Regions from separate parts of the Homo sapiens genome. Here regions 1 and 2 are each reported to be linked to region 3. The links are microRNA targets in miRTarBase. Many come from high-throughput screens and were not tested one by one. Region 3 holds a microRNA gene; each other region holds the end of a gene's coding sequence.

Evidence for each region. The annotated mature microRNA hsa-miR-1972 reads UCAGGCCAGGCACAGUGGCUCA and lies in region 3 at 1,641-1,662, opposite strand. An mRNA with a match to its seed (bases 2 to 7 or 8) in the 3' UTR can be bound and repressed. Matches are read on the target gene's strand: a 7mer-m8 pairs with bases 2 to 8, a 7mer-A1 pairs with bases 2 to 7 and ends in A, and an 8mer does both.
Region 1: miRTarBase lists SNIP1 as a target of hsa-miR-1972. Seed matches in the 3' UTR shown: 8mer at 1,273-1,280.
Region 2: the mRNA of CCDC59 is a reported target of hsa-miR-1972. Seed matches in the 3' UTR shown: 8mer at 3,422-3,429.

Annotation. Positions count from the first base shown.
Region 1 is chr1:37,533,815-37,538,060 of GRCh38, forward strand. It overlaps SNIP1 (Smad nuclear interacting protein 1), which reads right to left. Exons shown (of 4, transcript NM_024700.4): 4 at 635-4,198. The coding sequence ends at 3,934. LOC105378649 (a long non-coding RNA gene) reads left to right here. Exons shown (of 3, transcript XR_947190.3): 2 at 73-169. Among named protein-coding and RNA genes, the nearest start is that of SNIP1, 18 kb to the right of the region's middle. RefSeq lists an enhancer at 1-1,051.
Region 2 is chr12:82,349,518-82,353,763 of GRCh38, forward strand. CCDC59 (coiled-coil domain containing 59) reads right to left here. Exons shown (of 4, transcript NM_014167.5): 4 at 2,786-3,795. The coding sequence ends at 3,634. Among named protein-coding and RNA genes, the nearest start is that of CCDC59, 6.7 kb to the right of the region's middle.
Region 3 is chr16:70,027,809-70,032,054 of GRCh38, reverse strand. It overlaps MIR1972-2 (microRNA 1972-2), which reads right to left and starts at 1,709; the gene lies at 1,633-1,709. It also overlaps the pseudogene PDXDC2P-NPIPB14P and the pseudogene PDXDC2P.

The DNA.
Region 1 (4,246 bases), not on the chromosome of region 3:
TTGAACCCCCTAGTTATGAATTGGGCAGCCTAATGAATCAGTTGTCTTTTCCTTCCTTAACTCTCTGCTAAGCTCTGCAGGCAGGAACAATCCAGCAGGAAGATCACTGAGCCAGGACTGAGGTGATTTCTCATCCCAGGTTTACCACTGACGTGTCATGGGTCTTGAGGTAAACAACTTAATTTATAGGGTCTTATCCACAGTCCACTGCAGTCCTGCTAGTCCCTGGACTGCTCAGTCTGGCATGATGTCCTCCTTTACTACTGACTCCAAATCAAACTATTTTCTAAGGTATACCTCAACTGTCATCTCTTCCACAAGGTGCGGCCCATCTCCAAATTATTTGTTTTTCTTTTTTTTTAAAAGATGAGGTGTCACTATATCACCCAGGCTGGTCTTGAACTCCTGGGCTCAAGTGATCCTCCTGCCTCAGCCTCCCAAGTAGCTGGGACTACAGGCACATACCACCACACCTGGCTATTGCTCCCTTTCTAACTTAGCTGTAAACCAACTGCATAAACTTATGCAACTATTGCTGACTGGATTAATTCACTTTAGAGTAAATGTGAACAACTGTTTTTAGAATTGTTTCCCATTTGATAAATACACTGGAAATTTTACCCAAGAGACCAAATGAAGCTTTACATTCCAAAACTTTAATGTCAATTAAGCAGCCTTTTCACTTGATATAAACTCACATACCCAGGAACACTGTGGGCTCAGAACATTATTTCACAAGCAGGTATTGCTGGCACGTTGTTTGTGTCACGTTTAGATTCCGATTAAATGACATCATTTTGTTCCTCAGATCCTGACATACACAATGAAAGTATTTGAAAGTTACATAACCAGTTGCACTTAATGAGTCATCCTTTGTCAATATTAGAATGAGGGAACCAGGATATGACTAGGAAGAGACTCAAGGGGTAAAATCTGAAGATTCTGTCCCATACCTCTGCAGAATCATGGACCCCCACAGAGGACTTAGGGGAGGGGCTCAGAAGCAAAGGGCTGTTTTGAAAATAGTTTGATTTTGACACAATGATTTGCAGACAAGCCCAGCCACCGTGGAGAAAAGATAGAGAATGAAGAAGTTCCAAATGGCTAAGATGAACATGAACTTCTAAACAGAATGAAAGCTCTAGGATTATGTCCACTTTAAGAAGTCTGCTGGTGATATCTGGCTTTAGAGGCAGGTAATGTCTTTTGACACCCTTTCTTCAAAGAAAGGGGTAAGGGAAAACAAGACCAAAAAAAAAAAAAAACACCTTCTCAGGCCAGGCCTGGTGGCTAACACCTGTAATCCCAGCACTTTGGGAGGCTGAGAGGGGCGGATCACAAGGTCAGGAGTTCGAGACCAGCCTGGCCAATATGGTGAAACCCCATCTCTACTAAAAAAAAATAAAAAATAAAAATTATATATATAAATTAGCCAGGCTTGGTGACAGGTGCCTGTAGTCCCAGCTACTTGGGAGGCTGAGGCAGGAGAATCGCTTGAAACTGGGAGGCGGAGGTTGCAGTGAGCCAAGATGGTGCCACTGCACTCCAGCCTGGGCGACAGAGTGAGACGCCATCTCAAAACAAACAAACCAACAAAAAAACCCACCTTCTCAGATATGTGGCATAAAGAATTTCTTAATCCAGGACGTTATTCCTCTACTAAAATAAAAACTGACTAAACAATTAGGACTTCTTACTGAAAAATGTAGGCAAAGTGGTCATCTATCACAGTGCCCACCAGGATGAAGTTTGTAGCAAAACTCAAGGCTACCACAAAGTAGTGCTACTGCAGCACAGACTGAACAAGGAGATCCTAGAGTAAGATACCAGATTAGTGCTTAAACCCTCAAGAGAAAACCGTCAGTCTGGATCAAGAGAAAAGTTCATCCAAACAAACCTACTTTTCAGACAAGCACATATATATGATCTATGGCACATACCAAAATGAAGAAAATAGCAGTTACAGTGGCCAATGTAGAACACATTCTTCAACTTACCTTTTTTTTTTTTTTCTGAGACAGAGTCTCGCTGTCACCCAGGCTGGAGTGCAGTGGCACAATCTCAGCTCGCTGCAACCTCCACCTCCCGGGTTCAAGCGATTCTCCTGCCTCAGCCTCCCGAGTAGCTGGGATTAAAACAGGCATGTGCCACCACGCCCAGCTAATTTTTGTATTTTTAGTAGAGATGGGGTTTCACCATGTTGGCCAGGTTGGTCTTGAACTCCTGACCTCAGATGATCTGCCCACCTCAGCCTCCGAAAGTGTTGGGATTACAGGCATGAGCCACTGTGCCCATGCCCGGCCCAACTTACGTTTCATCTAATGACCTTATTAAGTGTTCACTTTTCAAAGGATCTTTTAACTTCTTCTGAATGAACATTAGTCAGCTGCCCCTCCCACTAGCCAATCTTTAGCCCTGAGCACACATGGGTATAAAAACAATGGAAAACAATCAAATTTAATAGTATCCTAAGTCTCAACCCAAGAGGAACAATTAGTAGTAACACTGATTGAGCTGCTTCACCACCTTTCCCCACAACCCACCTCCATGTCACCATCTGCTATTCCACTGACTTGGAGGCCAACGATATAACCTGCCCCACAACACTCTAAAACAGCTACCTACTTTTATCTCAAAAGTACTGACAGAAGGCTCCATTAGCAGCAAACAGACCTATGAACACAAGGTCCTCTACGCTAGGAAAGCATTACTCTTTGAAATGGGGCTATATTTACAAATTTTATTTTTTTATCCCAAAAATACATATAAATGAAAACCTGCTCTTCAAATGCAGGGAGGCCTTTGCCTAACATTGTCATATGAAAATCAGTATCAGCTCTTTAACACACAATTTACATATATACATACATACACACTATATGTAAGCAGCAAATACTTTGCTACTTACACATATTCCTCTGGTGGAAAACTAGGACACTGGGAAATTCCCCTGCTTTCCAACCTTGGGAAGGTAAATACAACCTCTCTCAACAACTTTTTAAAGGATGAAATGTGTAGAAACATGTAAACAACACAACCTGCTTTAGATCTATACATGTTATTAGAATAAAGAAAGAACGCTGTCACATCAGTGACAGTTTATTTCTCAAAGAAAAAAAGAGATAACATTTGAATAAAAATGCAAAACTGAAGTACAGTTAATATGATCAAAATTGTTGTGTACATGCTCCATGGAGAAATCAGGAATTCTTTCACAAAGAACAGATCCACAGCCAATTTCAGTCACTTGTGATGCTGAATCAGCACCCACTGGTAGCAACCAGGATCCTTCTGTACAGTCACGGGCTTGAGCAGGTGCCATAAAGCATCTGTTTAAGTTAAACAGTCAATAATGTTTACTGACTGCAGTACATTCCCACCCCCCAAAAAAATAAGTGCAAAATCAACTTCTAAGCTCAAGAGCTCAAACAAGTCAAAGCTTTGGTATATACTGGAGGTTGTTTTGGTGATAACCAAAGCCTAGTAAGATTCTCTGCTCAGGGGTTCGCCCCAAAAGAAAAACACCTGGTCCACAAAGCTTAACACCTATATAAATAAAGTAACTGTACAAAGAGAACAAGCCATGATTTCCCCTTAACCAAGGGTTTATAGTTTCCTAGGCAGCAGTTCTGAAAGCACCAACTAAAACCACAACACTTCTACTAAAACACGGTGTGTTGTAATTGGTGAGACTGTTCTGAAAACAAATGCCTGCAGGCATGTGGCCAAGGTGCCACAGAAAAAGTTTAACAAACATTAGTCAGTGTATTCAAATGGTAACACAATCTGGTCAGCAACAGAGGAAAGACTTAAGGCAGTAAGAGGCATTACAGAGAGCACCATAGTGCTGGACCCACCACCATAGTGCTCTCTGAGTCAATCAAAGACTTCCAAGAAGGAAACCGTGTATCAATAGTTTGGGTTCTTAGTTTGCTAGCTGTCAGACACTTCTTCCTCCTCCTCCTCATCCTCGTCATCTTTCCTGTCTATTTCAGAAGTGTCCGACGACTCATGGAGCAAGACGTATTCTCTGCTACTGAATCCAAATTTGAGTACATCCTTTTCTTTTAGTTCATAGTATCTCTGTGGCTCAATACGTTTGTTGTTTAAGAAGGTTCCATTGCCTGAGCCAAGGTCAATGATGTAGGGCTTCACTCTTCGGCCAACTGTGCCATCAGCACGGGTATATTCCACAAGCCTAGCAGAAAAAAAGGAGAAACCTGTGAGCAAACTTCTGCCTCAGATC
Region 2 (4,246 bases), not on the chromosome of region 3:
TTGGCACTTCAGAAGTTAAATTAGTTCAATAACTCTATGGTGTGCCTCAACTTACAAAAGGTCTGGAGAGTCAATAAAACACCCAAGGTAATTACAATACTTGCCTTATACCCACCAAATTTAAAAGGCAGTTATCCTGTACAAAATTATGCTCCCAAAACTCAGTAGTATTTATTGCCAAAGACTACATGTAGCAGAAACTCTATAGCAGGAACTCATGAATCAGTAGGAAGGAAGATAACCGGTGATGGCTTTAGCCTTATCAGAATGCCAGTCACATGAGCTGCACACTTAAACTAAGTTGGAAGAAATTTGTCAGCAACAAGTTAAACTTTTCACCATGCATTTAGCATGGTACTCTATCTTCTCTTTCAGAAAGTGACATCTGAAACACTGATGCTATCTTACCAAGTATAGAATTTGGAGTGGTCCAGTCCCAATCACCAAGTCAAAGGAGACCTGATCTTTTCCCAGTATGTTCAAATATCTTCAGATTCAAAATTTTCTCTTTTACACAGCATTTCAATGACTCTCAGAACAATTTAGACCTTGAGCTTTTCTAGAACTTTATATTGCAACCAAGGCACATGTCTTTAAAAGTAGCAAATACTGATACAGTCATTAACATCTAGCATAGCTATGAATATTTCTTCTTATATCATTAAATCCTTGCCACGAATAAAATTGTTTTCTGGTGTCGAGTTAGCAGCATCTGATGAGTGAGGCCTTTGCTGCTCACACATGCATATTTAATGTAGGCCAAGGTCAAGCTGCAGTAGCCTGCATGAGACCACTTGCACATGCCAGTGCCTTTGTTGATGCCAGCACCACTACAGTAGCTTGCTAAGCCTCACCTTGGGCTGGCATCTGGTGAGGACATCCATGAGGCCAGCATTTGGGTGAGCCCCACTTCCAGATTCTCTGTCTTTGCTGAAGCCAATATGTCTCCATCACCCTCACTCAAACTCTGCTTCATTGAGGCCTGCGCATATGTGCTTAAAGCCCAGTATTGCACATTGTCTCTATAGAAATTACCAATTTCTCTGGACAAAGATATCCTAAACTTTTAGGTCAAAATCCCACGTGCCTTAAGTCTTAAAGCCTCTTGCCAAAACTGCAACTAAAAGCCTACTTCACACTTACAAAGTCAAATTAATAGCCCTAATAGAAGCCTCTACAAACTACCAAGATCAAAGCTCCCTACGTATACATTAAGGTCTGAAACCAGAAACCATAAGCTATGGCCACAATTAAGCCTCTCTCTTTCTATGTTGTGCTCCTTCAAATTTTATTCCTCTTTTATTTCTTGATGTACTAACCCATATAGCACAAATTTCTATATATATTTTCCAAAAATATCCATCCCCCTTCTAACATTTATCAATATAGCCTGTTCTTCACTTATAGTATTAGAATAGCAATTAAGAGTACATGCACTCTGCTGACAGCCCAGGTCCTCCTCCCAGACATCATTTATTACTTTACCTCCCCTGGGTGGAACAAGTGGGACAAGAAGTAAAGATACCATGAGTGTTTGGATGATGGTGTCTTCTCCACATGGAAGGAAACAATAGGGAACCGATAGGAACTATTACCTCCATCAATAATAATATATTCTAACTACTTATTAGATATTTAAATAATACCAAGCTTGCTTCCCTTTGTAACTTTCCTCATGCTCTTACACTTCTAATCTTTTTAACCTCGAAGGCTTTCCTTAAATGCTATTGCACACATGAAACTTTCTCTGATTTCTTAAACCAAACAAAACCTCTTTCTTCTCTGAGGCCCTGGTCCAACATTTTTTAAGTGTGGCGAGGAGCAACCCAGCAGAATCACTGGGGTTGCCTGTTAAAACATCCATTACTAAGCCCATCTACAGTATCCAAATTCCTTAGTGTAGGGTCCTCAAACATGCCTCTTAAGAAGCCTATAGGCCAGGCACAGTGGCTCACACCTATAATCTCAGCACTTTGTACGGCCAAGGTTGAGCCATAAGGATCCCTGAGGCCAGTTCAAAACCAGCCCAGGCAAGGCTGAACTTGGCAAGACCTCATCTCTACAGAAAATGTTAGCCAGGTGTTGGCACGTACATGTAGTCCCAGCTACTCGTGAGGCTGAGCAGGATAACTTGAGCCCAGGAGTTTGAGGCTGCTGTGAGCCATGATCACACCACTGCACTGCAGCGTGGGCGGGAGACTGTCCACCACCAAGATAATAAAAAAAAAAAAAACGAAAAAGGAAAAGCTTCCTGGGTGCTTCATTGATAACACTAAAATCTTAACCTTTTGCTTTATCTGATTGTCACTGATTACTTTTTCCCCCATTATACCATTACTTGGCATTTATTCCTCTACAAGAACTTTGGAATTTTAAAGAGTAACTCCTTAATATAAGTTTTGCATAAAGTAGCTTTTAACAAAGTCGTTAAAATGAATATAATTTGACTTTCACTTGTCTCTCAAAAGGACTAGATCTCCTTCCATGTTTTGTCATGATTAAGTGTCTAGAAGTGAAAATGCACAAAAATTGTAAAGCAATTTACTGAAATAATTTATCCTCCATCATGATGTGATGTGTCTTCACCAATGTAGCCAAATTTAGGCTTTCTGGGCTGCTTACTTTAAATGCAATATAGTGCAATGCAAATTTCTAAAGCATTGCTTTTCTATGCAATGAAGATTAAGTTCAGTGTTATCTAAGCACTTTCTACTGATCTTGAAATGCAGAATAAATTAGTAGACTGAAAGAGCTCCCTAAAATCTTAATGCAATTTCAGACTGTATTTGCTATCATTTATAAAATTTTATTATTCAATATTTGGCAAGTATTATTGGTCAGCCCTTTTTGCTTACAATGACTATATATATATTTCAAGCCTTTCTCATTCTTCTGCAATTTGCAAAGCATGAGAAGCAGTTATCCCAGTGGCTTATCTCAGCTCACAAGGGTACCAACAAGGGAGACAGAGATAATGTTCTTAAAGTATAGGGTCCATAGGAACTGGAAAGCTTAATTCTTGCTGTGACACTGTGGGGTTTCCATCATTATTTAAAAGACCTTAGACTAACAAGCCATGTACATCCATTTAAGGGAATGTTTATAAATATCAGACTTTGAGTTCACTGCTTTGTGAAGGTCGCTTTGTTATATGGTGAGGGCAGTTTATTTCAGCACCCATCACCCTGTAACATGTACTTAAAATAAATAAAAAGTCCAAGAGGAGTCTTTGCCTCCCTCATCATTAAAATAAATTTTAAAACAACGTAACTGTTTACTAAATTGAAATATTTCATTGAAATGCTTCATTGATAGCTCTGATTCCTTATTTTTAAAAAATTTATTTCATATAAATCTCATATGGTACAAAAGTATTACATGCTTGGGCCTGTCTTGCAAAATAAGAGGTTCTTTCAGTTCTTCAGGCCAACCTTCCTTCAGAGGCAAATAAATAAGAAACATGTAGAACATATTTAGAAAATTTTTTACCATAATAAAAATATGTGAACATCTTATATTTAGCATAGTTTAGCAATCCAGTTTATGTCGACAAATTTAGTTCACTGCTGGGAGGCACATGTCACAGAAGAACCTAATAGGCAGCAGATATTTTAACCTGTAGGAACAAAATGTTTAACATTTTTCTTGTATTTTTTGAAGAAGGTACTCCATTTGTACATTCAAGTTTGGTTGGCCCTTTTTAGTCTTTTTGTTCAGTATTTTAAACACTTCCATTTTCTTCTTTTTGTACTGCCTTTGGGCTTCTTCTCTCTCCTGTTTTCTCCTCTCGAATTCCTAAAATTATTAACATATGTAACTTTCATTAGCAACAAACAGTAGATACAGTTCAGAAATTGTCTTGAAATAGCTATTACTAAGCAAACACTCTAAGGTTTGTCTCTTCTATTTTGCAAGATGTGCACTGTTTCTCCTAATTGAAGCAAAGTACCCTCTTTGCCTTCATATTATAATGACCCATGGTATAACAGAGAATTTTCATGATCACAAAGCCCCAGCTCTATATAAACAAAATTTTAAAAGGACATTAAATGTTTTACAGCATAATGGTCATTACTGCACTTCATCTGATATACTGTTTCCAAAGGTGACAGATGGTTGGAAAAAGCATAAAGCTGTGCTAGTTAATACTGGTCCAGTATTCCCATGAAGAAATTTTCCTGCTTTCTCCTAATCTGCCACCAGCTTAAGAACAATGAAAACATTTTTGATGTTAAGAATTCTTAAT
Region 3 (4,246 bases):
GGCTTGTCTTAGAGCCACAGCCTTTCACAATCTGAAGTGAATGGTGCAGAGAGCTTTCTTGTCAAGTCGTATGTTTCTTCCTGCAGCTCGGCTTGCCCTTCCCCTGCTTGTGCCGTGTACCCTGTAACACTATGTTTGGATCCCAGCATCAGATGGTGAGTTCTACTTTTGGTTTGTAAAATCATGTGGGATTGTGTTTGGAAACTGCCTTTCAAGTGAAGTTCTTTTTGCTGGCCTCCAGATAATTAGTAACTTACTGATGTATTGCTTGGACCCTTGCATTGTGTAATATATGCTTCTGTTAATATGTGAATGTCCATGAAGGTTGGTTGGTATATAGGTCAGGAGCACCTGGCTTTTAAGGAGTCTTGTAATTACTGTATCGCCTGCTTTAAGTAGAAACATGGCAGCTCAATTAAGCACCAGAAATTTCTTCTGAAGCTCCTACTTTTAATGAGTTAGCACTGTTGCCTGGATTTATGAATGGGCAGATTTTGAAAATGAGGTTCTTCATTGTCATCGTGGAATTGAGTTCTGCTTAATTTCAGACATGCAGGTGATAAATCTCTCCTTAATGATTCCAGAAGGAAAAGGAAGGGATGGATTTTAGAGTTTTTTATTTCTTTTGTCAAGGTAGTTTTATTTTCTAGTTCAGGTACATCAGTGAGTAATAGTAGAGATACATTCATGGCTGTTTTAGGAGAGTTAAGAGAACATTTCATTTAAATGTAAATGTTTAAAATCAAAGAAATGTTCCTGCATATGTACAGTTTTTACCTTTAATCTTGTTTAACTGATTTTTCTAGTCTTCAAGGAAAACTATTTGATTTTCACATCTATGATGAGAGAAAACAGAAAAATTGTCAAGAGTAAGAATTGATTTGACATTACTTTTGAGAGTTATCTGCTTCTTTTGCAAGTCATAATTTTTCATTTTATAGCTTTTATACTAGGCACCTCATTTTTTAATGATTTGTTTTGGTTCCAGGATGTTGCCTTCCTGGAGAAACTGATTAAAGATGATATAGAGCGAGGAAGACTGCCCCTGTTGCTTGTCGCAAATGCAGGTAGGTAGCATGATGCTGAATCTACCATTTTGAATATATAGGAGCGAGGCTACATCCTCAGCCTATAAAAGATAAAGTCTTAAGAAATGTGTGTGTACCACATGTTTAATTAAGATAGTCCATGTCCACATTGTAGCAAAAACTGTAATAGTAAGGTTGGCTCGTTAGATTTTTCTTTAATCGTTGGTTTGTTTTGGAAGTTATTTTATGTGTGTGTATACTTTTTCATTTAGATTGTAAATGCTTCTCTATCTTCTCCTTCATGTACTTCTTTTCCCTGTTCTAAACTGAATTTTATTTTATTTTTTTGAGACAGAGTCTCACTCTGTTGCCCAGGCTGGAGTGCAGTAGCACAATCTCACCTCACTGCAATCTCTGCCTCCCGGGTTCAAGTGTTTCTCCTGCCTCAACCTCCTGAATTGCTGGGATTACAGCTGCGTGCCACCACATCTGGCTAATTTCTTGTATTTTTAGTAGAGACAGGGTTTCACTATGTTGGCCAGGCTGGTCTCGAACTCCTGACCTCAGGTGGTCCGCCTGCCTCAGCCTCCCAAATCGCTGGGATTACAGGCATGAGCCACTGTGCCTGGCCTGAATTTTTAAATGACACATTTAAGCCAGGTGTGGTGGCACATGCCTATAGTCGCCCTACTCAGGAGACAAGCAAGATGCTGGCTTAAGCCCAGAAGTTCAATACCAGCCTGGGTAACATAGCAAGACCCCATCTCAATAAATAAAAATAATTGTACTGACATTGTAAGATTGTTGTAAAAATTAAACAAGAAAATTCATAAAATGTCACACTTAAATATCTACCTTATAGGCGGCAGAGCAACTACCACTTGCTGCTCCACTTATCTCATTCAGCATCATACTTGAAATCTAAGACAGTGCAATAAGGTAAAAAAAAAACTGACAGATTAGAAAGGAAGAAATAAAACTTTGTTTGTAGGCATGATTGTATAGATAGAAAACTAAAGAAAAGCTACTGGAACTAATGATCAAATCTAAACCATTTTCTGGATTTTTATATACCAGCAAAGAAGAATTGGAAATTGAATTTTAAATGTCATTTATAATAGGATCAAAAAAGATGAAAAATTTATGGATAAATTTAACAAAATATATGCAAGATCTGTACATTGAAAACTAAGAATGATACTGAGAGAAATTCAAGAAGACCCAAGAACGATATGCCATACACATGGGTTGGAAGACTAAGTATTAAGTCAGTTCTTCCCAAACTAATCTGTAGATTCAACTCGATACCTCTTAAAATCTCAACAGGCTACAATTTCTTATAGAACTTGATGAGCTAATTCTAAAGTTTATATAGAAATACAAGGGACCTAGGAACAGCCCAAAGAATTTTGAAAAAGAACAAAATTGGAAGACTTACCTTGTCATACTTCAAGACTTCTGTAAAGCAGCAAGTAAGATTGTGTGAGATTAACCAAATAAAAAAGAGAATTCAGAAATAGACTCATGTGAAGTATATGGACATTTCAGGTTTTTACAGATGCCTGAGTAATTCGAGGGAGAAAGGACAATCTTTTTACATCAGTGGTCTTAGAGCTTGGATATCCATATGGAAAAAAAACTGAATCTTAACCCTTATCTTATTCTCTGTATATATAAATATTAACTATAAATGGTTCATCAACCTAAGCATAGATCTAAGACAATAAAATGTCTCGAAGAAAATACAGTAGATCTTTGTGACCTTAGGTTACGTTTCTTAGGATACAAAATATGTGAACCATAAATTGTACTTTATCAAAAATTAAAAGCATTAGCTGTTTGAAAGCCCCTATTAAGAAGGTGAAAGGCAAGTTGCAGACTGGGAGAAATATTTGCAAAACATTTTTTTCTTATTTCTTTTTTTTTTGTCTTTTTCTATTTTTATTTTTTATGTTTTTGAGATGGAGTTTTGCTGTGCTGCCCAGGCTGGAGTGCAGTGGTGCGACCTTGGCTCACTGCAACCTATGCCTCCCAGGTTCAAGCGATCCGCCTGCCTCAGCCTCCTGAGTAGCTGGGATTACAGGCGCATGCCACCATGCCAGGCTAATTTTTATATTTTTAGTAGAGACGAGATTTCGCCATGTTGGCCAGGCTGGTCTCAAACTCCTGACCTCAGGTGGTCCACCTGCCTTGGCCTCCCAAAGTGATGGGATTACAGGCGTGAGCCACCACACCCAGCCAGCCACTGTCCCAGGCCTGTCTTCTTTTAAAATTTCTTTTTCATTCTTTTCCCCAGAAGCTACAAAACATTTGACAAAGAACTTGTATCTAAAATATATAAAGAACTGTTACAACTCAATAAGGACACGAGCAATACAATTTTTTTTTTTTTTTTTGAGATGGAGTCTTATTCTGTTGCCCAGACTAGAGTGCAGTGGTGCGATCTTGGCTCACTGCAACCTCTGCCTCCCGGGTTCCAGTGATTCTTCTGCCTTAGCCTCCCGAGTATCTGGGATTACAGGCATGCGCCACCACACCTAGCTAGTTTTTTTGTATTTTTAGTAGAGATGGAGTTTCACCGTGTTGGCCAGGCTGGTCTTGAACTCCTGACCTTAGGTGATCTGCCTGCCTTGGCCTCCCAAAGTGCCGGGATTACAGGTGTGAGCCACTGTGCCCGGCCCACAATACAGTTTTTTAAATGAACAACAGATGTGAGCAGATACTTCATCAAAGAAAATGAAAATGTATAGCACTTGAAAAGATGTTTAACATCATTAGTCATTAGTGAAATGCAAATTAAGATCACCGTGAGACATTACTACCTGTCTGTTAGACTAGAGAAATTACAGGTGGCTCACACTTGTAATCCCAACACTTGAGAAGGCTGAGACGGCGAGATCAATTGCCCTCAGGTGTTCGAGACCAGCCTGGGCAACATGGCGAAAGCCCTAGGAAATCTCTACAAAAAATACTAAACATTAGCCAGGTGTGGTGATGTGTACCTGTAGTCCCAGCTACTCCAGAGGCTTTGGTGGGAGGTTGGCTTGAACCCAGGAGAGAGAGGTTGCAGTGAGCCAAGATTGTGCTACCATACCCCAGCCTGGGTGACAGAGCGAGGTCCTTTCTTAAAAAAAAAAAAAAAAAAAAAAAAAAATTCTTTAAAATATTATGTCAGGCCAGGCACTTTGGGAGGCCGAGGCGGGCAGATTCTGAGGTCA